Homo sapiens: one gene and its partner. The main gene of each other region encodes a partner of the protein of the gene in region 2 in a complex. Each region holds a gene or a part of one and is shown on either strand. Other genes may lie near its edges. The genes, in order: RPS6KA1 and SYNJ2BP. A codon is read from its position in the direction of its gene.

What was found.
Region 1: the proteins of SYNJ2BP (region 2) and RPS6KA1 are in contact, whole or in part, in a crystal structure (PDB 7P74), measured with the Homo sapiens proteins. Residues at the interface, in NP_060843.2 of Homo sapiens: Arg18, Gly22, Leu23, Gly24, Phe25, Asn26, Ile27, Val28, Gln33, Ser45, Arg46, His78 (codon at 7,225), Val82 (codon at 7,213), Phe85 (codon at 7,204), Arg86 (codon at 7,201); in NP_002944.2 of Homo sapiens: Pro731, Ser732, Thr733, Thr734, Leu735.

Annotation. Positions count from the first base shown.
Region 1 is NC_000001.11:26,544,032-26,553,760, reverse strand, and holds part of RPS6KA1 (ribosomal protein S6 kinase alpha-1), read right to left. Parts: intron 7,920-9,729; exon of another isoform or gene 7,861-7,919; coding exon of another isoform or gene 7,726-7,860; intron 6,895-7,725; coding exon 6,778-6,894; intron 6,573-6,777; coding exon 6,491-6,572; intron 2,365-6,490; coding exon 2,284-2,364; intron 2,118-2,283; coding exon 2,038-2,117; intron 371-2,037; coding exon 264-370; intron 1-263. UniProt on the Homo sapiens protein: Serine/threonine-protein kinase that acts downstream of ERK (MAPK1/ERK2 and MAPK3/ERK1) signaling and mediates mitogenic and stress-induced activation of the transcription factors CREB1, ETV1/ER81 and NR4A1/NUR77, regulates translation through RPS6 and EIF4B phosphorylation, and mediates cellular proliferation, survival, and differentiation by modulating mTOR signaling and repressing pro-apoptotic function of BAD and DAPK1.
Region 2 is NC_000014.9:70,368,517-70,381,239, forward strand, and holds part of SYNJ2BP (synaptojanin-2-binding protein), read right to left. Parts: intron 7,256-12,723; coding exon 7,160-7,255; intron 4,616-7,159; coding exon 4,475-4,615; 3' UTR 1-4,474. Other genes in the region: SYNJ2BP-COX16 protein, read right to left, coding at 4,517-4,615, 7,160-7,255. UniProt on the Homo sapiens protein: Regulates endocytosis of activin type 2 receptor kinases through the Ral/RALBP1-dependent pathway and may be involved in suppression of activin-induced signal transduction.

The DNA of each region.
Region 1 (9,729 bases), on a different chromosome or scaffold from region 2:
AAAGGTGGCATCTCAAATGTCACACTAGATTAGCAAAAAAAGACGGGCAACATTACCTGCATGCAAAGTACCTGGCCCTTGGTAATGGTAGCATTAGTGACTGGGCAGCTGGCACTACCACCCACCCCACTCACCCATCCCTCAGATTGCCCAAGAGAGGGAGACGTTTCTGGAGAAAGCCATGCCCACCCACCTCAGGATGGCCCTGTCCTAGAAGAGGCCTCCCCTGGGGAGGCTGGGGTGGGGCTGGAGGCTTCACTCACTTCTCAGGCTTGAGGTCTCTGTAAATGATACCCAGGCTGTGCAGGTGATCCAGGCCCAGAGCCAGCTCAGCCAGGTAAAACTTCACATCCTCCTCCGTGAACATCACCTGCAAAAGACAGGAGGGGCCTTCAGCAGGGACCTCCTCTTCCTTAAGAGCTGGGGCACTGGGCAGTCAGCAGCTTCCTGGTCCTGAAGAGCCACCCTGGGAGGACCCTTGGAAACCCCAGGCCATATAGCCTTCTCATCATACAAAGGATTTGAAGTATGAAATGACTAATACGCAAGCCACTCATTGTGGCACCATTCAGAAATAGAAGGGGTGGGAAACAGGCCTAGGGTCCAAGAGTAGAAGGCTGGAATCAGCCCTCTCCCCTGCATAATGGAGTGCTTTGCAGCCATGAACTGGAACAAGGAGTTTCTCCGTGTTCTGACATGGAGTGAGCTCCAAGATATACTATCTTGAAAAAAGCAAGGTACAGAACAGTGTATACAGAATAGTACTTTTTACATAAGGAAATGGGGGTAGGAATGAACATATATCGGATTTGTTTGCAAAAGAAACATGGGAAAGTTAAACAAGAAACCAATAAAAATGTTTACCTATAGATGGGAATAGAGGGGGCTGGGGTGGGAGGAAGACTTCTTCATGAATATTTTTCTTTTGAATCATGTATATTACCTATTCAAACATTAAAATCACAATTTAAGCCGGGCACGGTGGCTCACACCTATAATCCCAGCCAGCAGTTTGGGAGGCTGAGGCAGGCGGATCACCCGAGGTCAGGAGTTCGAGACCAGCCTGGCCAACATGGAGAAACCCTGTCTCTACCAAAAATACAAAAATTAACCAGGCGTGGTGGCGTGCACCTGTCATCCCAGCTACTCGGGAGGCTGAGGCAGGAGAATTGCTTGAACCCGGGAGGCGGAGGTTGCAGTGAGCTGAGACCCCACCAGTGCACTCCAGCCTGGGTGACAAGAGCAAAACTCCATCTGAAAAAAAAAAAAAAATTACAATTAAAAAAAAAAAAAGCTAGATTCTCTTTAAAGTTTGAATTGTACGAATGGTCCCATTTTCTAGCTCAAATCCTTTTTTTTTTTTTTTTTTTTTTTGAGACAGAGTCTCGCTCTGTTGCCAAGCTGGAGTGCAGTGGCGCGATCTTGGCTCACTGCAACCTCTGCCTCCTGGGTTCAAGCGATTCTTGTGCCTCCGCTTCCTGAGTAGCTGGGATTACAGGCACACTCCACCATACCCAGCTAATTTTTGTATTTTTAGTAGAGACGGGGTTTCACCATGTTGGGCAGGATGGTCTTGATCTCCTGACCTCCTGATCTGCCCACCTCGGCCTCCCAAAGTGCTGGGATAACAGGCGTGAGCCGCTGCGCCCAGCCTCAAATCCTTTTATATTGGTTCAAAATCCTTTTGGATGACATACGCAAGATGACTGCTAAAGTCTCTGGCTCTCTGGGTGACTTTGGGCTTCTCCCCTATCTTCACACCTCTGCCCAGAGCAGCCCTGGAAGAAGGCAGGTGCAGAGGTGAGAGGAACCCTTAGCTCCCTGGAGTTTCCTTGGGAGAAACTCTCAGAGACCTTGCCAGCGTATGGCCTCCATTCCAGGGTGCGTGGTATTTCCTGGGCCAGGGGCTGCTAGGCAGGCCTGGGTGGTTCCAGGTTCAAGCCATACCAAACACATTCTGTACAGGGCCCTGGGATGGGAGGACTTGTCGTCCCTCAGCTCCATCCCGGGGCCCTCTGGCAGTAGATGTCAGCTCACCTCTTTTGAGAGCCGGGTGAAGAGGTCCCCACCACGCAGGAAGTCCAGAATGAGATAGAGCTTGCCCTCGGTCTGGAAGGCTGGGAAGAGGGAGAAAGGCAATGGTAGAGTCGGCGCGGCCTTATGATCTGCTTCTCCGGCCCTGGCTCCCTTGGCCTGCCAGGCAGGCGGTGGGACAGTGTACAGACCACAGGCAAGGGCGAAGGATGGGTGGGGTAGGAGCTCAGGCAGGGCCAGAAGCTTTACCATAGTGCAGCTTCACCACGAATGGGTGATTTACATCAGCCAGGATGTCTCTCTCCATCTTGGTCCGGACGCGGTCACGTACTGGCCAGACGAGAAAGGAAGTCACCAGTAGCCTAGACACTCAACACAGCCACTCCCAAGCCCCCGCTAAGGGATCTCTTTTCCACTTGTTCCTCCAGGCCTGAGCTCCCAAAGCCCCCTCACCCAGGGCTTTGGGGACACTCAATCCTCAGGTTTCCTCCTTGCCAGTCTGTTTCTGGCTCCTTGGCTGGCTCCTTGTCCCCACCCCTCACAGCAGTGCCCACAGCTGGGGCCTTGGCACCCTGCCCATCTCTCTGGTCCCTTTTCCCACCAGACCCCATCAAGACCTGTTAATCAGCCAGTCTGAGCAACCTGCTCCCCCAGGGTTCTCTGCTTTGTCAGATCCTCAGACTTTGCCTCTGCACCTCCCCCTGGCATGCCTTCACCAGCTCTGCTTTCCATCTGGCATAAAAATTCCCAAATTCTGGTCTCGGGGCTGGTAAGAACGGCTACCTGGTGAGCTGGATCCCTGGGCCTAAAATCCCGATCTATGGGTCTGGGTGGGCACCCTTCATATTATTTATTTATTTTTTTAAATAATACAAGTTATTGGGCAGTTCTGATTCTCAGCAGGTTCTTTGACTCAGCTTAGGCCTCACCTTCTCCAGGAAGCGCTCCTTAATTTGCCAAGCTGGGTTAGGGCCTTCTGGATTCCTACAGTGCTTGTGCTTCTCCTTTGGAGCACTTTTCTCTTTTTCAGGTTGCCTTCTAAATTTATTGAAGCCCACCAAGTATCATGTTTTATTGATTTCACTAGTCTGATTAGAACAGGCTTTTGGGCCGGGCACAGTGGCTCATGCCTGTAATCCCAGCACTTTGGGAGGCTGAGGCAGGAGGATCACTTGAGGTCAGGAGTTCGAGACTAGCCTGGCCAACATGGTGAAACCCTGTCTCTATTAAAAATACAAAAATTGGGACCAGGCGTGGTGGCTCACACCTCTAATCCCAGCACTTTGGGAGGCCGAGGCAGGCAGATCATGAGGTCAGGAGATCGAGACCATCCTGGCCAACATGGTGAAACCCTGTCTCTAGTAAAAAATACAAAAAATTAGCCAGCCTGGTGGCACGTGCCTGTAATCCCAGCTACTCAGGAGGCTGAGGCAGGGGAATCGCTTGAACCCAGGAGGCGGAGGTTGCAGTGAGCCGAGATCACGCCACTGCACTCCAGCCTGGTGACAGAGTGAGACTCTGCCTCAAAAAAAAAAAAAAAAAAAAATTGGCCAGGCGTGGTGGCTCATGCCTGTAATACTAGCACTTTGGGAGGCTGAGGAAGGCGGATCACCTGAAGTCAGGAGTTTGAGACCAGCCTGACCAACATGGAGAAACCCTGTCTCTACTAAAAATACAAAATTAGCTAGGCGTGGTGGCGTGGGCCTGTAATCCCAGTTACTCGTGAGGCCGAGGCAGGAGAATCACTTGAACCCGGGAGGCAGAGGTTGTGATGAGCCGAGATTGCACCATTGCACTCCAGTCTGGGCAACGAGAGTGAAACTCCGTCTCAAAAAAGAAAAAAATATATATACAAAAATTAGCCAGGCGTGGTGGCATGTGCCTGTAATCCCAGCTACTCAGGAGGCTGAGGCAGGAGAATTGCCTGAACCTGCGGAGCGGAGGTTGCAGTGAGCCGAGATCACACCACTGCCCTCCAGTCTGAGCGATAGAGTGAGACTCCATCTCGGGAAAGAAAAAAAAAAAAAAAAAAAAAAGAACAGGCTTTTGGACATGGCTGCCTAGGTTCATTTTGGGCAGTGTGTTTCAACTAAGTTTATCACAATATTGATTACCCCTTGACTGAGACCTCTCATGTGTCCTTTGACTTTTTTTTAATGGGACAGGGTCTCACTCTGTCACCCAAGCTGGAGTGCAGTGGTGTGATCTTGGCTCACTGCAACCTTTGCCTCCCAGGTTCAAGCGATTCTAGTGCCTCAGCCTCCTGAGTAGCTGGGATTACAGACACACCAAACCTGGCTCATTTTTTTTGTATTTTTAGTAGAGACAGGGTTTCACCATGTTGGCCAGGCTGGTCTTGAGCTCCTGACCTCAAATGATCCACCCACCTTGGCCTCCCAAAGTGCTGGGATTACAGGCATGAGCCACCGCACCCAGCCTTGACTTTTATTAAAAGGAGAGGTGGAAGGCTAGGGAGTGCTTACTAAGACCAGACAAAATGTCTGAGCAATACACACAATGCAAAACTAAAGGCTTTTTTGGTCCATGTACTGGATTGGCAGTTTCCTCTCCAGCCTCATAGTCCCAAAGCCTTCACTAGTCCATCCATCTAGTATGAATTCTATTCATTCGTCACTGCCATTCCAGAATTGATGCTCACAGCTGCTTATCTTAGGAGATCTGGCCAATGTACTCCTCCTGCATGTCTTTCCGGAGTCTTGTTCAGGACACAATCCTTGGCCCTTGCTACAAGTAGAAGCTGCAGCTGCCTTCCAACACACCTTCTATGTCAGCACACAGGGCTGCAGGAGCTGGTCCCCTTCTTCTGTTTTAATTTTTGTGTTTTCCTCATTAGACATGACAAGGACCACACCGGAGTTAACTATTTTGGTCACCTTACATTTTCTTTTTTCTTTTTTTTTTTTTCTGAGATGGAGTTTCGCTCTCATCGCCCAGGCTGGAGTATGGTGGCGCGATCTCGGCTCACTGCAATCTCCACCTCCTGGGTTCAAGCAATTCTTGTGCCTCAACCTCCTGAGTAGCTGGGACTATAGGTGTGCATACCAGCATACCCAGATAATTTTTGTATTTTAGTAGAGATGGGGTTTTCCCATGTTGGCCAGGCTGGTCTCGAACTCTTGACCTCAAGTGATCCACTCGCCTCAGCTTTCCAAAGTGCTAGGATTACAGGTATGAGCCACAGCACCCAGCTTACCTTACATTTTCAAACCACCTCTACACTTTAGTTCAGGCAAACAGTTTCTCCTTCCCAGGGTCCCCTTCCTCAAACATTTTTGGTCTAGAGAAATCCACTCATCCTCCAAGGCTTCCCGCTCCTTAGGTGTCCCCTTGGCCTCTGGGCCCACCCTCTACAAGACTACACCACCACTCCCAGCTCCCCAGCGCGTCGGATATCCACGCACACCAGTCACAGCACCGGCTGCACCACACTGTCGGGTATGCTTAGCCTCTCCTGCCCAGCCTGTGAGCCCTTCACAGCAGGGACCCAGGCTTTTCATCTTTCTCCTCCCTCTGAAGCTGCCACCATACCTCCTGGGGGATGACTTCCACACCCACCAGGCTGGCCTTAGGATACCAAAGCCACCCATAACGTCCTTAAGGCTGACGCCTCCTACTGCCCCCACTACCTCCCCAGCTAGGATTTGGCTCTGACTGGGATCAGAGGTGCACACCACCACACCCAGCTCATTTCTTTGTATTTTTAGTAGAGACGGGGTTTCAACATGTTGGTCAGGTCTTGAACTCCTGACCTCAAATGACCCGCCCACCTCAGCCTCCCAAAGTGCTGGGATTACAGGTGTGAGCCACCGCGCCCGGCCTTGACTTATTTAAAGAGAGACTTGGCTATGACTCTGCCGGGTCAGTGGTCACACTGGTTCCCAGGCCAAGTGGTCAGTATCCAACCCAAAGCCCACTACCAACCATCTTCACACCCTTTGTAAGTCCCCAGAACTCTAACCTTGGCTCGGGGCTCCCTTCTGAACCTCTCTGCCATCCAGCTCTGTGGCCCTGCCTGGACTCACCCTCTCTTGCCTAGCCCAGCTGCCTCCCTGGGCTCCCTGCCTCTTCACTCACGCCCTTCTCTCAGGCCCCTGAGTTAGGGGCCACAGAGGTCTCCCCCAGACTCTTCTAGCATCAACAGTCAGAATGCCTCTGCTTGACCAGCTTGGTAGTTGAGGGCCCCGCCCCCTGACAAACACATTGCATTTACCCTATTACCACCTTCCAGACCTTCACAGCCAGTCACTAGCACTTGGCTTAGGGGGAGGAGGATTGGCTGGCGAGGGATAGCTGAGAAATAGGCCTGTTTCTCCACCTTTGAACTAGGTGCTCCTGAAGACAGAGCTGTCTCCCTTGCCAGACCCAAGGCCCTTGAAGTCTGGGCTGCCTCCCTCAGCCAAGCCTGGGTTCTGCACAGGGAGGTGTCCCCACTCACCTTTCAGCGTTGCCTTCTTCAGCACCTTCATAGCATACAGGTGCCCACTGTCAGGCCGGGTGACTTTCCGCACCAGGAAGACCTGAGAAGGCAGAGCAGGAAGCAGGGCAGAAGATGGGAGAGGTCTGAGTCCAGGCTGACCTCTATCTTCTCTGAGCCCCAAGCTGACCTTTTTGCTCTCCCTGGGTACCAAGGTGACCTCTGATCCTTTGGGCCCCTAGGTGACCCTTGACCCCCACCTCTAACATGACGAGTGTTGCCTTCACAGCTATGGGCTCATGACTCACTTTGCCAAAGGATCCCTGGCCCAGAACCTTGAGGAGCTCGAAATGGGATGGATCAGCCTTCTCAGAGCCAGCCTTGACGTGGTGCGTGATGGAGATCTCCTTGAGGACGCCCTCATCCTGATGGAGGGACAGAGCTGGTGGGCATGGTGGGCCCCATCCAGGCAGCAGGAGGCTCCCCTGCCCAAGTCCATTCCCACCAGACCACAGCAGATGGAACCTAAAGGCCCAATAGACGACTTCCCTGAAGGGCTAGCCTCCAGGGTCATCGATTTCAAAAGAGCCTCAAAGTCTGGGGAGGTCAAACCAGAACAGGCACCGCTCCTATTGCTCACGATGCTCTGGCCTGGTTAGGCCCAAAGGGATGCCCAGGCATGGCCAGGCTGAGTCAACCCCAGGCTCTGGCTGAGACCCAGAGACCTGCCCCAGGTCCGCCCGTGGGGCTTCCCTCCCCCTGTTGTTTTAGTGTTGCCACAATAGGAAGTAGGCTTGTTCTCATATGGGGAGGTAGAGCTGGGCCTTCGTTCCTGGTCAGGATGGGATGAGGGGATCCCTCTGGTCAGCAGGACAGGGCTGACGTGCACAAAGACCCAAGAGTCACCCAAACTCCCCCATCAACTAGGTAAGTGCTGGCCTGGGGCAGGTCAGAGTTAAGGCCAAAGACTGCATGGCTCAACTTCCCAAACTTCCCTCATACAAACCTACTGGAAGCCCCTTGCCAGGTCCTAGCCTTTCCAGGACTCTACCCTCCCTCCAATCTGCTGCCATTGCCTTGAAGCCCTGAAGTGCCTCCTCACTTCCCCAGGAAGCAAGTCTGGGCAGGGTCCAGTCACCCTGCAGGGCCAGGCCTGGGCCAGGACAGCCCAAAGCCAGCTTATGTTAAGCTGGCTTCCCAGGCACCTGCTGCAAGGGACACAGCCAGGTCAGGACCAGACATTCGGGCACACTCACCGAGTCCCGCTGGGGGCCAGAGCCAGGGCCAGGGACAGGCAGAGAGGTCTGGCTGATCCTGGGCCGCTGCTTCCTGGGAAGCCAGGGGATCAGGGCCCAGAGCCGCAGACGGGGCGGCTTGGGATCCTGCTCCATCCGCCCAGCAGGGCCACGGCACCATGGCAGGAGCAGGCAGAGTCCGGGGCTGCCGCAGTGGTGGCCGGGACCAAGGCGGATGTGCAGGGTAAGGGCGGGGGCTGGGCCTGGCCCAGGGCAGCCAATCACTCAGGGCCTGTGGTTTCCCAGCACCAGGCCTACACCCTCACCACGTTCCCTTCCTCTCTCTCCCCCTCTCCTCAGAGCCTGAGGGCTGCCCTCTGGCCGTTCCCCCATCCTCCCTGTGGGCCTACAAAGGGAAAGTCCCCTGCCAATGCAGCTGCTGAGCAGACTGGTACCCAACAGCAGAGAGGTACCCAATAGCAAACAGGTACCCAACAGACAAAGACAGGTGCCTGATATGTGGAGGCAGACGAAGAGAGACACCCAACAGGCAGAAGCAGGCACCCAACAGGTGGAAACAGGTAAGAATGGCATCCATCATGCCTGTAATCCCAGCACTTTGGGAGGCTGAGGCGGGCGGATCATGAGGTCAGGAGATCGAGACGATCCTGGTTAACATGATGAAACCCTGTCTCTACTAAAAATACAAAAAAAAAAAAAATTGGCCAGGCGTGGTGGTCAGCTCCTGTAGTCCCAGCTATTCGGGAGCTGAGGCAGGAGAATGGCATGAACCTGGAAGGCGGAGCTTGCAGTGAGCCGAGATAGCGCCACTGCACTCCAGCCTGGGTGGCAGAGCAAGACTCCATCTCAAAAAAAAAGAAAAAGAAAAAGAAAGAATGGCATCCAACAGGCAGGGGCAGGAGAGAACACATACCCAACAGGCAGGGATGGAGGATAAGGACACGCACCCAACAGGCAGAGGCAGGAGGAATTCATATCCAATAGAAAACAGATGGAGACACGTACCTGACAAGGGGAAGCAGGAGGGGACTCATATCTAACAGACAGAGGTGGACAGAGACTCATCCCCAATGTGTGTAGGCAGATAGGGACACAAGCCCAACAGCCAGAGACAGATGGGGACATATACCCAATAGGTAAAGACAGATGGGGACATGTACCCAACAGGCAAAGGCAGGAGGAACACATCTCCAATAGGCAGAGACAGAAGAGAATACCAACCCAACAGGCAATGACAGAAGGGGACATAAACCCAACAGGCAGGCTGGGCGTGGTGGCTCACGCCTGTAATCCCAGCACTTTGGGAGGCCGAGGCAGGTGGATCACGAGGTTAGGAGATCGAGACCATCCTGGCTAACACGGTGAAACCCCGTCTCTACTAAAAATACAAAAAATTAGCTGGGCGTGGTGGTGGGCACCTGTAATCCCAGATACTTGGGAAGCTGAGGCAGGAGAATGGCTTGAACCTGGGAGGGGGAGGCTGCAGTGAGCCAAGATCGCACCACCGCACTCCAGCCTGGGCGACAAAGTGAGACTCCGTTTCAAAAAAAAAACCAACAGGCAATGACAGAAGGGGACATGTATCCAAAAGGCAGAGACAGATGGTGACACAAACCCAACAGGCAAAGACAGAAGGGGACAGGTATCCAACAGGCAGAGACAGATGAAGACATAAACCCAACAGGCAGAGACAGAAGGGGACATGAACAACAGGCACCTAACATGTGACATGTACCCAAAAGGTGAAGTCAGGCACTTATCAAGTGGAGACAGAGATTGGAACCCAACCACAGACAGAGGTAGGCAGCAAAGAGAGACAGCGGGAGAGTCAGCGAGCCCCAAGCAGACTGACAATACCTAGGGCAGATAGGTCTGACACCTGGCAGACACACGGGCAGGCAGCAGGGCAGGGATCCCCAGGAAGGGGTTAAGGGCAGAGCTGTGGGTTCTTGCTGCTGTACCTGGGGTGGGGAAAGAGATGAGGGGAGACAATCTGCAAACTCC
Region 2 (12,723 bases):
TTTTTAGCTTCAATGTTCTATGATTGGTTCTCATTTAATTGATGCACCAACTGAAACACTCACTAATCATACATTTTGCTGGAGGTTGATCAATCCTTAGCAAATCAGGAAGAAATGAATGTTCCACTTACTTCGTGCAGAAGCTCAGGAAGCTGGGCTCTAAAGGCCCAAGTTTTTGTTGTTGTTGTTGTTGTTGTTGTTTTGCCTGAAGCAATGTATGTAATTTAATAATTTAAATAGTGTTTAATTAAATAGTGTCTTGTTTAAATGCTATATAACATTTTCAACTGCGGCTGCACACCAGAATCACTCAATGAACTTTATTTTACTGCTGCTTGAGTCCCACCCTCAGAGGTTCCTTTTAATTGATCTGTGTGCAGCCTGGGCATGGGGACGTTTATAAGCTCTCCAGATGATTCTAACCTGAGCAAAGGGAATGATGACTGGCATAGAGCAATGAGTCTCAAACTTTAGCATGAATCAGTCACCTGGAAGGATTACAAAAACACAGATTGTGAGATGCCACGCTCAGAGTTTTTGATTCACTAGGTCTGGAACTTCTTTTTTCTCTTCTGGGAACTTGCTTTTTGTTTTTTGTTTGTTTGTTTTTTTGTTTTTGAGACAAGGTCTCACTCCGTTGCTCAGGCTAGAATGAAGTGGAGCAATCACGGCTCACTGCACCTCAGTCTCCTGGGCTCAAGCAATCCTCCCGTGTAGCTGGGCCTACAGGAATGCACCACTAATTTGTTTGACTTTTAGTAAAGACAGGGTTTCACCACATTGTGCAGGCTGGTCTCAAAACTCCTGAGCTCAAGTGACCCACCTGCCTAGGCCTCCTAGAGTGCTGGGATTACAGGCATGAGCCACCATGCCCAGCCTATGAACTTGCTTTTCTAACAAGTTCCCCAGTAACGCTGATGCTTTTGTCAGGACCTTGCTTTGAGAACCACTTCCAGTGAGAGAATATCATTGATGCTGGCATCTGAAGTCCTGAGTTTAAATCCTGATTCTATTATTACCACCTACATAATCCTAGTCAAGTAATTTTTTCTCTCATTTTTAGTCTCTTTGTGACAATACTTAGATCCCAGAGTTATGAGACATGAAATAATGTACCAATCAGAGTTTGGTACAGTCCCTGGCATAGAACACAATAACAAATATTAACTTCCTTTTTCCATTATACATGGCTAGATGGAACAATTAAGTTAAATCGATAACACATAAGTTGAAACTTCACAGGAAAACAAAGTACAGCTAGTTGAAGCAAACAATATCTTATAATTATACATGTAATACAGAATGATAGAGAAATGTTTTAAGTACTTAAAAATACCTTCGTTCAATTTTCAAAACTTTGAACGTAATAATTTAGGTAGTAGGAACATTAGATGCAATCTATAGAAGAAATATTAGACTCAATCTATGAAGAACATGAATTTTTTTACAACCTATAATGGATCCTGATACCTCATCTATAATTTTAGTTTTCTATAGAATCAATAATATAATTAGTGTACCTGCTTAAAACTGTATTACATTGATCTTCAATGCTACTTAATTTCTGAGAAAACCTAAGTTATAAGAGTACATCAGAATCTCTATTATCAACCAAAGCAAAACTTCTACCAACGACAGAATGGATACTTTTTAAACAAATTTACATATACCAACAAGCAAAAAACTAGAGCTTTCATTCCTGCTTGACATTTTTTTCACTTTGTGTGTCTCAAGGCTCTCTCAGGAATCAGTGTCCAAACCATGAGGTGAATCCTGGGAGGTAAGCAAGCTTGCTGTAGAAGCCGCTGTACATGCCTTCAGGAACAGAAAGGGTACCAGAGGCTGTGCCCTCCTAGTGTGGCTGGTTGGAGTGACAACTAGAATGTTGTCCGTGTTTTTCTGTGGAACCTACAATGAGTCCAGTTGTCTAAGTGAGTCTCAAAGGTATTGAATAGTTGATGTCAAAAGGCACTTTATGTCAGGACTGTTTAAAGCAAGTTTCTCCCTATACCAGTAGTGACCCAGAGGCAAGGTCTTACCGGACCTCTTATTTTCAAAAGCCTTCCCTTTCCAATTGAGCCTGATGCCATTATGTGACATCTTTTTTTCCCTGAATTTCTAAAAGAAAATGTGATGATTACCTGCATATCTTCTTTGTTGCTGCATCGTGTTTTGCATGGTACCCCTTTAATATTGTTTTCAATACTTAGCCTGCTGATATACTTTTAACTTCTCACCTGTTTATGAATTCTCTTAACTAGGCTGTGAGGCCCTTAAGGGTCTTCAACTTGTCCCTTTCCTCCACGTAACTTTCTCAAACGCCCCAGTTCTCAGTAACTTTTCTCTTTTGCTGTCTGTAATATAAACATGACCCCTACTTACACTGTCCTACCTATGTGGCCAATAAGAGTGTTGTCTTCGCAGTTGGAACCCAAAAGCCCTATGGGATGGAGGATATGCACTGTACTTCTTTGTAAAAGTGTCTTGACAAAGCTGATGTCCAATCAACATTTAATTACCAGACTGTCCAAGCTAGAAATGAAATACAGTTGATTGCCTGAGTCCTGATAATCTTGCTAACAAAATTATAAAAGGCCTATAGTATGGCCAATATATTTGGCTAATGGAAATGATTTTCTTAAAGCCAGAAAATTCAGCTACCCATAGTGCTTAAAACCAGCCTTAAAAGAACATGAACAGGATGGTTCCCACCTTATCGAGATCACTGGCATTCCATAGTATCCATTCATTCATATCCTCCTCCTAGGCCGCATGAAACACCTACCACATTTCCCTACCTCCTAAAGCAAACAAAACTCTTTTCCTCCCTCTTGCTGCAAAAAGGTTTATTAAAAGCCGTATGTAGTGTATAAAGCCTTTCAAAAATACTAGCAATCCATGCCTTTCTTTTTTTGAGATGGAGTCTTGCTCTGTAGCCCAGGCTGGAGTGCAGTGGCGTGATCTTGGCTCACTGCAACCTCCGTCTCCCAGGTCCTGGTTCAAACAGTTCTCCTGCCTCAGCCTCCTGAGTAGCTGGAATTACAGGAACGCGCCACCATGTCCAGGTAATTTTTGTATTTTCAGTAGACATGGGGTTTCACCATGTTGGCCAGGCTGGTCTTGAACTCCTGACCTTGTGATCTGCCTGCCTCGGCCTCCCAAAGTGCTGAGATGACAGGTGTGAGCCGCTGCACCCGGCCTCATTTTAACTAAATCTGAAGCCAGAGTTGATTTGATGCCCATCCTGCCAGGGAGGCAGTTCCTTCCCTCAGGTTTGTTAGTAGAAACCAAAAAGTAGCCTGAGAGGGTTCAGGTGCCACCTTGGAGGCACTACCTTATCTTTTGTCCTTTTAGAGTTTTCTTGCTGGGGTGTTTGGCTCCAGCACTATAGCCCTTACCACAATCATTCCACCTGGTTCTTCAATAGGACTCTGAGGTATCAAAAAAGTCACTAGGGCAGCCCAGAGATTGGTACGATTTACCTTTACACCTCAAAGTTTTTTAGATGTGAGCAGCGCTGGATTATGGCAATTTACCTTATAATAACTCACCATAGTTGGCTGTTATAAGAATAAATATTGTTCTTCTAAGATTTTTAATTAGTTGCTTCAGTTATTACATTTTTTTCTATTTTTTTTTTAAATAGAGATGAGGTTTTGCTATGTTGCCCAGGCTGGTCTCCTGGACTCAAGCAATCTCCCACTTCAGGCTACCAAAGTGCTGGGATTTACAGGCATGAGCCACCTCTCCCAGTCTCAGTTATTATTTTAATAAATGAGACTGAACGTCCTCTTATAAGGCTCACTCCCTTGTTCCTACTACATTTGCTCTGTTTAAGTATCTCTTTAAATTCTTCAGTTAAGATCATCCCTTTTATCAGAAACCTAGACACCACAAAGTAGCTTTCTCACCTTTAATTCTCCATAGGGATCACTATTATACTATAATATTTGCATACGTATGTGTATATATGTATTTGCTTTTTTAAAAAAGTAAAAATGCTCTTCTCACTCTTTGTCGATATAGGCACCCAGGTACGTAGTTAGAAATTAAATAAAGGCCACAATAATTTCCCAAGGAAGATCATTAAAAAGAAAAATCCTTTCTTCCTCTAATATCACATAGCTGGCCTTTATGGCATGCCAGCTAAGAAAAAAGGTATTGCCTATGGTGACAGGAAGACTCAATCTTTCTCTCTTTGGGTTGTAGCTGAATTTCTATCAAAAGTCCTAGTAAAATATATAACTCCTCATTTGTTCTAAGCCAAGTCTTTTCTTCAGTTTTCCTTCAAACAATACCTTTACTTTCCCATTAGAATATGAAGAATTGGAGACTGTGAACAGCAAGGTTTGGGGTGGGTATCAGTCACTTCAAATCTGGCTATGCAGAGAGAGGGAAAGACATGGCAGAATAGCAGGGGTGGAGGGTGAGTGAAATGTATCTTCATTGGGAGTATTGAAAGAGAGCAAGTTTTTCAAAGTTGTTGCCGGTATCTCATGAAAGCCCAGGCTGCTACCATGGTGAGGGCAAACACTGGCACCAGCACCATAAATATGGGAATACCACTTGGGTCCCCTTCACCTCGATGTCCTATAGGTCCATTCTGCACCTGTAACTGGAAGGGAAAGAAAAATGTTAACTCTAGTGACTAATGTGTGTTTGCAACTGAAACGCCCAGGTTGATACATCACCTGGGTTTGTAGACTCTAGACCACCCAAAACTGTAACCCCCAGCAATACCTAGCAGAAGGAGTCCTCTCTTTGTCCTGAGCTGATGCATCAGTGTCACAGGATCTTTGGAAAGAAAATAGGTCTAATGGGGAGGCATTTAACCTTGCTGACCTAAAGGGACCCGTGAGGGCAAGTCAGGTAATTTCTGTTTCTGTACTGCCTCTACCTTGCTATTTGTGTATCGTATCAGGAAAATGAAGACATGAGATAAAACCTATGATCTTATAGGGAACTTGGATATTACTTGGTGAGGAAGAAGGGGGATCTTTCTGGAAATGTTTACTTAGATAATCAGTCATCAAAATGTAGTAAGAGCAGATGTGGGCAATGTCAACATAGGTGCAATACCAACATACGTCCAATGCCATTACTTGAAAAATGCTTTCCAGATCCCAGAAGGCACCCAACTCCCTCCAAAGATGGGGTTTTGCCCTTCATCTGCTCATTTCTAATACTAGAGAGAGATGAAGGTGAATCTATATGGAACAGATGTAAAAAAGCAAAAAGAAATTATATCCTAGTGCTTATAATTTTCTATTGGCTAAGTGTTTCCTTTTGAGGCTGGATGGTCTTCATTTTAGTGATGGTTTTCAGGGTAGCTCTTCTTAATATCAACTTTTAGTGGCTAACTTGCAATAATTATGGCATCATCGTATTTCAGTTAAACTGCCTCATTACAACTCATAAAACTGACACTTCAATCTGAAAGGCAAGACTGCATGAAATACCATTATACCCTCTATTCCACCTCTATGTTTTTCATTCATTTGCTGATGAGCTGTCCTGAAAGGACATGCTCAATAAGAAGGCATGGTTTTTAGGGCTAGGCCAATTGCCTGAACATAAGGGTCTTTTTTATTAGGAATTATTTATGGATGTTTCCTTAAAAGTGAACACTGGAAATAACTTCTCACATACCTTCCAAAAGAATTGTAATCATATTGAAGTGTGTCCCTATATTTACTTGTTTTTATCTACTGCACAAATGCTCCCATGCTTTAGAAAGAGAAGAGCCAAGGCAGAAGCAACTGATGACCAATATTATCTCTTATTAACCTGTTTTCTAATCCATTACACCCAGATTCTGCTTGCAACTGGTTGTTTTCTCAGGTATCTTTCACGTTCTGCCTTCTCTACTTTTTTAGGAACTCCTCTAAATGTTCTTAAGCTTCTAAATCCTTAGCCACTGAGTGAGGAAGAGTGCACCTATTTAAGAAGTAGCAAATTGATTTAATTTAAAGGCACATGGAACCTGTTTTGTGAATATGCTCAGAAATTCTCAATGCTATAGGAGGAATTATATCTACCCAGGCTTCCCTTTACATCATCATCCAAATTATAAAACACTTGGAAATAAGAAACAGATGCAGGGATAGGTGCTGCCTTGACTGAATTCTGAATTCCATTTCCTTTTTCCTGGAGTTCTCCTATGAACACTAAAGATTTGGTTAAGAGGGTCACCAAGTTGATAAATGAAGGGTTCATGGCAGTGACAGGGAAAAGCATATAGTGGGTACCAGAAAACCCACCATCTTTGTAGTGTTTTATCCAATGGTTTTATAAATAAGTTTTCAGCGGTAGACATATGGTTCCTTCCCTACCAAAAAGTAAAATTGGCTACGTTTTTTTACCATCTTTTTAATTAATTAATTTATTTATTTTCCATTGGTCCATGTCACTCTTAAAATTTTTTATTTATTTTTATTATTATTTTTTTAAGAGATGAGGTCTCTCTATGTTGCCCAGGCTGGTCTTGAACTCCCGGGCTCAAGCAATCATACCACCTTGGCCTCCCAAAGTGCTAAGAGTACAGATGTGAGTCACCACACCTGGCTTTTCTTTAATCATCTGTTTTAATTTGGTTGTCAAGCTTTATCTTTAAGGCATATTATCTTGAAGCAAGGACCTTGGTTATAAGCCATACTGTTGTGAATTTCTCTTTTTTTTCTCTTTTTTTCTTTTTTTTTTTTTTGAGACAGGGTCTCACTCTCTTGCCCAGGCTGGAGTATAGTGGTATGATCTTGGCTCACTGCAACCTCTACCTCCTGGGCTCAAGCAATCCTCCCACCTTAGCATCCCAAGTAGCTGAGACTACAGGTGTGCACCACCGTGCCTGAATTTTTTGTATTTTTAGTAGAGATGAGGTTTTGCTATGTTGGCCAGGCTGGTCTCGAACTCCTGGCCTGAAGTGATCCGCCCACCTTGGCCTCCCAAAGTGTTGGGATTACAGGTGTGAGCCACCGTGCCTGGCCTGAATGTCCTTCAATGATAAGCAGAAGTACCAATGGACCCCTCCCTTTGCCTGAGAAACTCTTCAGGGGAGTGAGGGTAAAACAAAAAGCAACACTGAAGATTACACACATTGGGCTTATTCAGAAGTACAGTGCAAAAGCCTGGTGCCAGGTTTCTGGCTCAAAGTGATACCTACCCTGTGCTGCACTCTCAGAGACACAGCATAGCCTGCATTACGAAAGAGGTCTACAGCATCCTGGTGCAGCAGGTTCTTTAGGTCTTGGCCATTTACCTGTCAAAACACCAAAGAGTAGTAAGAAAGGAAGAAGGCTATTAGAAGTCAACAATTTATTTTCAAATGGCCAAACTTTAAATAACAAACTCCTTCAGAGCAAATTGCAAGGACTAGGAGTATGGGCAAAGTTACTTAGAGCTCAGAACTTAGAACTTTTTTCATTTTCAAAACTATGTTTTCCTAGAACTGAAGTTCCACAGGCCATCTGAAGAGAACCTATGTAAAATAAAAAGTGGTCTCTCCTTCCTCTTAGCTTCTATGCCTGTCTCGTTTTGACACTTGGGAATCTGTTACCGTATTAGCATTTCTTCCATGAGTGTTAACCTGCTTCCTTAAAGATAGCATGGTCTTCCAGGTTACCACCCTAACCTTTATATTCCTAAGCCCTGGCATTGCCAGCTGCAACTGTAGAAATATAACTCTATGAAACTCTCCACCAATTTATTTTGATGTCATATAAATCTATACTAGCCCATTCTATTGGGCTTTTCATAGTGAACAACTTCCTGTGATTCCACGGATACTCCTATCCATTATATCCAAATTAGTAAATTAGTCATTTTTTAATCAAAACTTAGTAAAAACCATATTCCTGTGATGATATAAATCCTTAAAAAAATTTCAGTGTAGGTCACTCCTACCACTTAGAGGTGAGAGATGTGAAGGAATACTTGTATTAATACTTTTTGCAGTTAGGAGTGACATCGGCCACAAGTAATAATCTATCTATCCTATGCTGTATTCAGTGACACAGCACAGCCCACTTAGTGCAAGATTACATATCTTTTATACTTGTCAATGTCATCGTTAACAGTAGCAGCAATAAGAACATCTGATATATTTCTTTTGATAGGTTCTGTACTTTACATACATTATCTCTTTTAATTCTCATGATAACCCTATGAGGTAGACATTATTTTTATCTCGTTTCCACAGATAAAGAAACTTGAAGCTCAGTGAGATTTGTGCTGGAGCTAGGGCTAGGATTTGTAAATAATGAAAGAAAGATCAAAGTGTCCTTGCATTTCACTGTTCCTTCTGCACTGTTATTCTTCCATCTTGACTCACCAACTATCCTCTGCTCAGCTAATGCTCAAGTCACTCCCTTACTCAACTCTCTCATTTTCCTTGTCGCAATCTTCCTTCTCCAAGGCACTCATAATCTTCCCTCTACTCTCTCTCTTGCCAATACAGTTGGTGAATGAATCTACCAACACTTCTGCCCTATAGACAGTCTACCTTTGTAAACCAATAGTTTCCAACTCCATTCCACTTCAGTCACCAATTGACGTAAACTTAGACTTCAATATTAGACATGCTTCAGCTCCAATATCTCAAACTCTTAAAAACCTGACAACAATTTCCACTCTTTTCATACTTTCTATTCATCTACTGAATTTCCTCCTTGTAACCTTTTTAGACTTTACTTGCATCCTTGCCCATCTAGGAGTTCCTGTTGTAATTTCAACAAAGCACTTGGTAAATCATTAGAATCCTTTGTCCCCAAGATCTTCTGCCATCTTTCCAGTCCTGGGCCATATTCTGCAATCCTTTTCTTGCCATCATTAAGTTGAATATTCTGGGAGAAAGGTATATTCTCATTCTCCACCATAGACCCATACTAGCTGACTCCAGCTCATCCTTAAAACCGCTTCTACTCATTTGCTGAACTCCTTAATAAACACGCAGTGATAGCTGTTCCAGACCTTTTTCCACCACCGTCTCCAACCCCATTTCTACCTCTCTCCCTAGCTGATTCCTTTATCTTTTGTGAGAACACTGAGGACTTCTGATAAATGCTTTCTACATTTTCTTTCCTTCTCCCTCAAAGTTTCTTTATATCTTCTCACTACTCCTTTCCCCTAGTCTCTGAATTAGATCTATTTCCTTTTCAAGGTGAAACCATCCACTGATGATCTTGATCATACTTCTTCTAACCTCCTTACAAAACTCACAGACACTCTGTCTTCTTGATTACTTAACTATTATCTTTCTCTGCTCCTTCTCTCAACTAAAATTATACACCTCTATAAAGAAAACAATACAACTATTTCTTGGAACGCATTATCACTCTCCTCCCATCTTCTTTCCTCTTTCTTTGACTGCTAAATTTGTTCTAAGAACTGTTTGCATGCACTACCTCTATTTCTTCAGCATTCATTCTCTATTCCCCTGTAATCTCACAATGTATGAGGTAGAAGGGAAGAACATGTTTTTCTAAAGGTCACCAATAACTTCCAATCACCAAATCCTATAGCCGTTTTTGTCTTCAGACCACCTCCTCCCTTTTGTAATTTTCTCCTATCTTGGCATATGAACACTTAGCATTCTTTGTTCTTAAATTATTCCTTTCCGGATTTCCTCTTCCCTTTCTTTCTCCTTAAGGTGAGTCAAGGTTTTTCAGTATCAATCCTCTATCTTCTTTCTTTCTCTCCCACTGTGAGCTTTAACAGTTTCAACCATAATCTGTAAGATAACTCCCAAATTTGTATCCCTACTTGTACTTCTGGATTTGCCAGTTTCTTGCTGGATGCCTACACCTGTATACTCTGCTAGACCCTAATTCAACATATCCAAAACCTCTTTATTACTTCCCACAAAAATCAGAATACATACCTTGCTTCTTATTGCCACTATCATTCCTTCAAACTTTTTTTTTTTTTTTTTTTTTTGAGACAGAGTCTTGCTCTGTCCCTCAGGCTGTCACAGTGGTGTGATCATGGCTGACTGGAGACTTGAACTCCTGGGATCAAGTGATTCTCCTGCCTCAGCCTCCGAAAGTGCTGGGATTATAGGTGTGAGACATTGTGCCCCAGCCCAGGCTAAAATTTTAATAATAGTTTTAAACTCTCTCTGCTGTCAACTTTCATATACAATAGATTGCCAAACTCCACAGTCTAACACTATGACATCTCTCATACAGTATTTTCTTTCCTATTGCCTATTTTAGGCTGTTGACACTAAAAACAAAACAAAAACTTGGGACCCCAATCCACCATGTCAAGAGAAAAAATTAAGCTGCAAGCTGAGTCATGCAATAAACTGCTTTTCCTTTTGTTCCCAAGCAGATAGCTACAGATAACAGGTTAAATATCTCCACAGGTAATTACTCTATGTTCACCTTATCTTATGTAAAGTCCCAACTTACTAAGCAAAAGAAAATACGTAATTGACTATTCCCTTGCCTGCTCCTTTCCTCTGGCAACATGTGGATTACCATACCTTCCCTCTTTGCTCTTCAGCCTACTTTAAATATTAAAGCCCTCAAAATCATCTTTGGAGAAAGGAACATACCTGTCTCCCAGGCATGTCCTTAACCTTGGCAAAAGAAACTTCAATCAATTTAGAAGACTCTTGGTTTAAAATACTCTTAGTTGAACTACTGTGATCACTTCTCTCTGATTTACTTTTCTCTAGGTTGGAACCGATTCAAATACTAGGTCTCCAGATTAATCTTCCTAAAGTACAATTCTGTTACTACCACTTTACTGCTCAAAAAACAAAAACAAAACTGGGGAGCAAGGAAAGAGTACATACCTCGTTTCTTATGCTGATATGGAAAGTCTTCCAGGAAATGACTCTAACCTATCTTCTCAGGTTAATTTCTATTTCCTTTCCTATATCCTATACTCTAGCTAAGTCACATAACTCACTGACTGGGACATAAAACATATTTTTTACCTTTATACCTGTGCTCAAACTGTATCTACCACCTAAATGCCCTTCCCTTTTAAAAAATTCTATTTATCTTCCAAGATTGATCTTTAAAAAGGATCAGTCCTGCTACCTACAGTGTAGAAATGAATACAGTTTTCTAGTCGAGGGACTTTAATTTCATGTTATGCCTTGGTTTTCTTGTTAGATATGCTGTAGGAAAAGAACTTCAGGATTTCTATAACTATCACAATGAATTCTCAATGACTCAATTTTCTAGTTAACTCCTGACAGAATAGGTGTGAGATTGCTGACTGTCATGGGAATGCTCACTTAAGTAATCTAGCCCATGTGATAGCTCTATTTCTCATTATAAAGAAATAAGTACTTTCTTTAGAGGCAGACAAGTAAGTTAATGATGCAGTCATGTCAATGAATGCCAAATGATGTCACAGCTCAATATCAGAGCCAAGGTTTCATAGTAATATAAATGCAAATGAGATAACTGGGTCACTATATTAAATGGTAGAAATACTGGGCTTAAAATAATCTTTGCCATAGTAGTCAGTAATAATTGCAGAGAATTATTGAACATAACCATGTCTGGAGCTGTCTGTTCATCTTACATGTATTAACTCATTTAGTCTTCACAATAGTTCTGTAAGTTAGGAACCCCTATTTTATAAGTGATAAAACTGAAGTGTAGAAAGGCTATCAATTTATCTGTGAGCAAACAGAATGAAAGCAGCAAAGCCAAGGATTCAAACTCAAGCAGGCTGGCCCAAAAGCCTTCACTTTAAAACACTAATCTATATGAATTTACATGGCAAGCAAGGATTTTATTTCAGCAACATATTACTGCCTATCACATATATGTTGTAAATTAAATTTTTATTGGTTTTGCCATTTAGTTTGTATTTAATGTTACACATTTAAAAAGTGTTAAGAGTTGAGGCCAGGCATGGTGGCTCACACCTGCAATCCCAACAGTTTGGGAGGCCAAGGAGGGCGAATCATGAGGTCAGGAGTTCGAGACCACCCTGACCAACATGGTGAAACCCCGTCTCTACTAAAAATACAAAAATAAGCTGGGCGTGGTGGCGCACACCTGTAGTCCCAGCTACTCGGGAGGCTGAGGCAGAAGAATCACTTGAACACAGGAGGCAGAGGTTGCAGTGAGCCAAGATTGTGCCACTGTACTCCAGCCTGGGCAACAGAGCAAGACTCTGTCTCAAAAAAAAAAAAAAGTTAGAGTTGAATAAAAACAAGGTATTTATATATTAATATTACTATTCATTTGTATATACAGAAGTAGCATTAAAATTAAAAAAGCAATTTAGTTAGGTGCCACTTCATTGACAAGGCCTTTCTAGATAACGTCACTAGATATGACTGATTTACTTCTTTGAATACTCTGTAACTCTGAATACTATGCAACTATATACTTTGAATACTGTGTAACTCTCTTAAAGTCCAAATTGAACTCTGCCTGACACCACTTTGCATTCTATTGTAACTTCAACATGTATCTCAGCTGATCATTATAACTCTACAATACCTAAGAGAACTTTGTACACTTGAGCATAATAAATAGCACATGCTTTCCTGAAGTTTGGCTGCAGAGTGCACCCTGAAAAAGCCATAAATACACAAAGCCTGACTGACATAATCTCAGTACTACATAAAGCTGCAAGGCCTGGATTCTAATAGTAGCTTTACCTGCCAATGATTCAGTGTGTAATCCTGCCCCTCCATCTGAGTCTCCTTCTGCTAACAGGGAAGAAAGACATTGGTACATCAGGCAAAAGAAG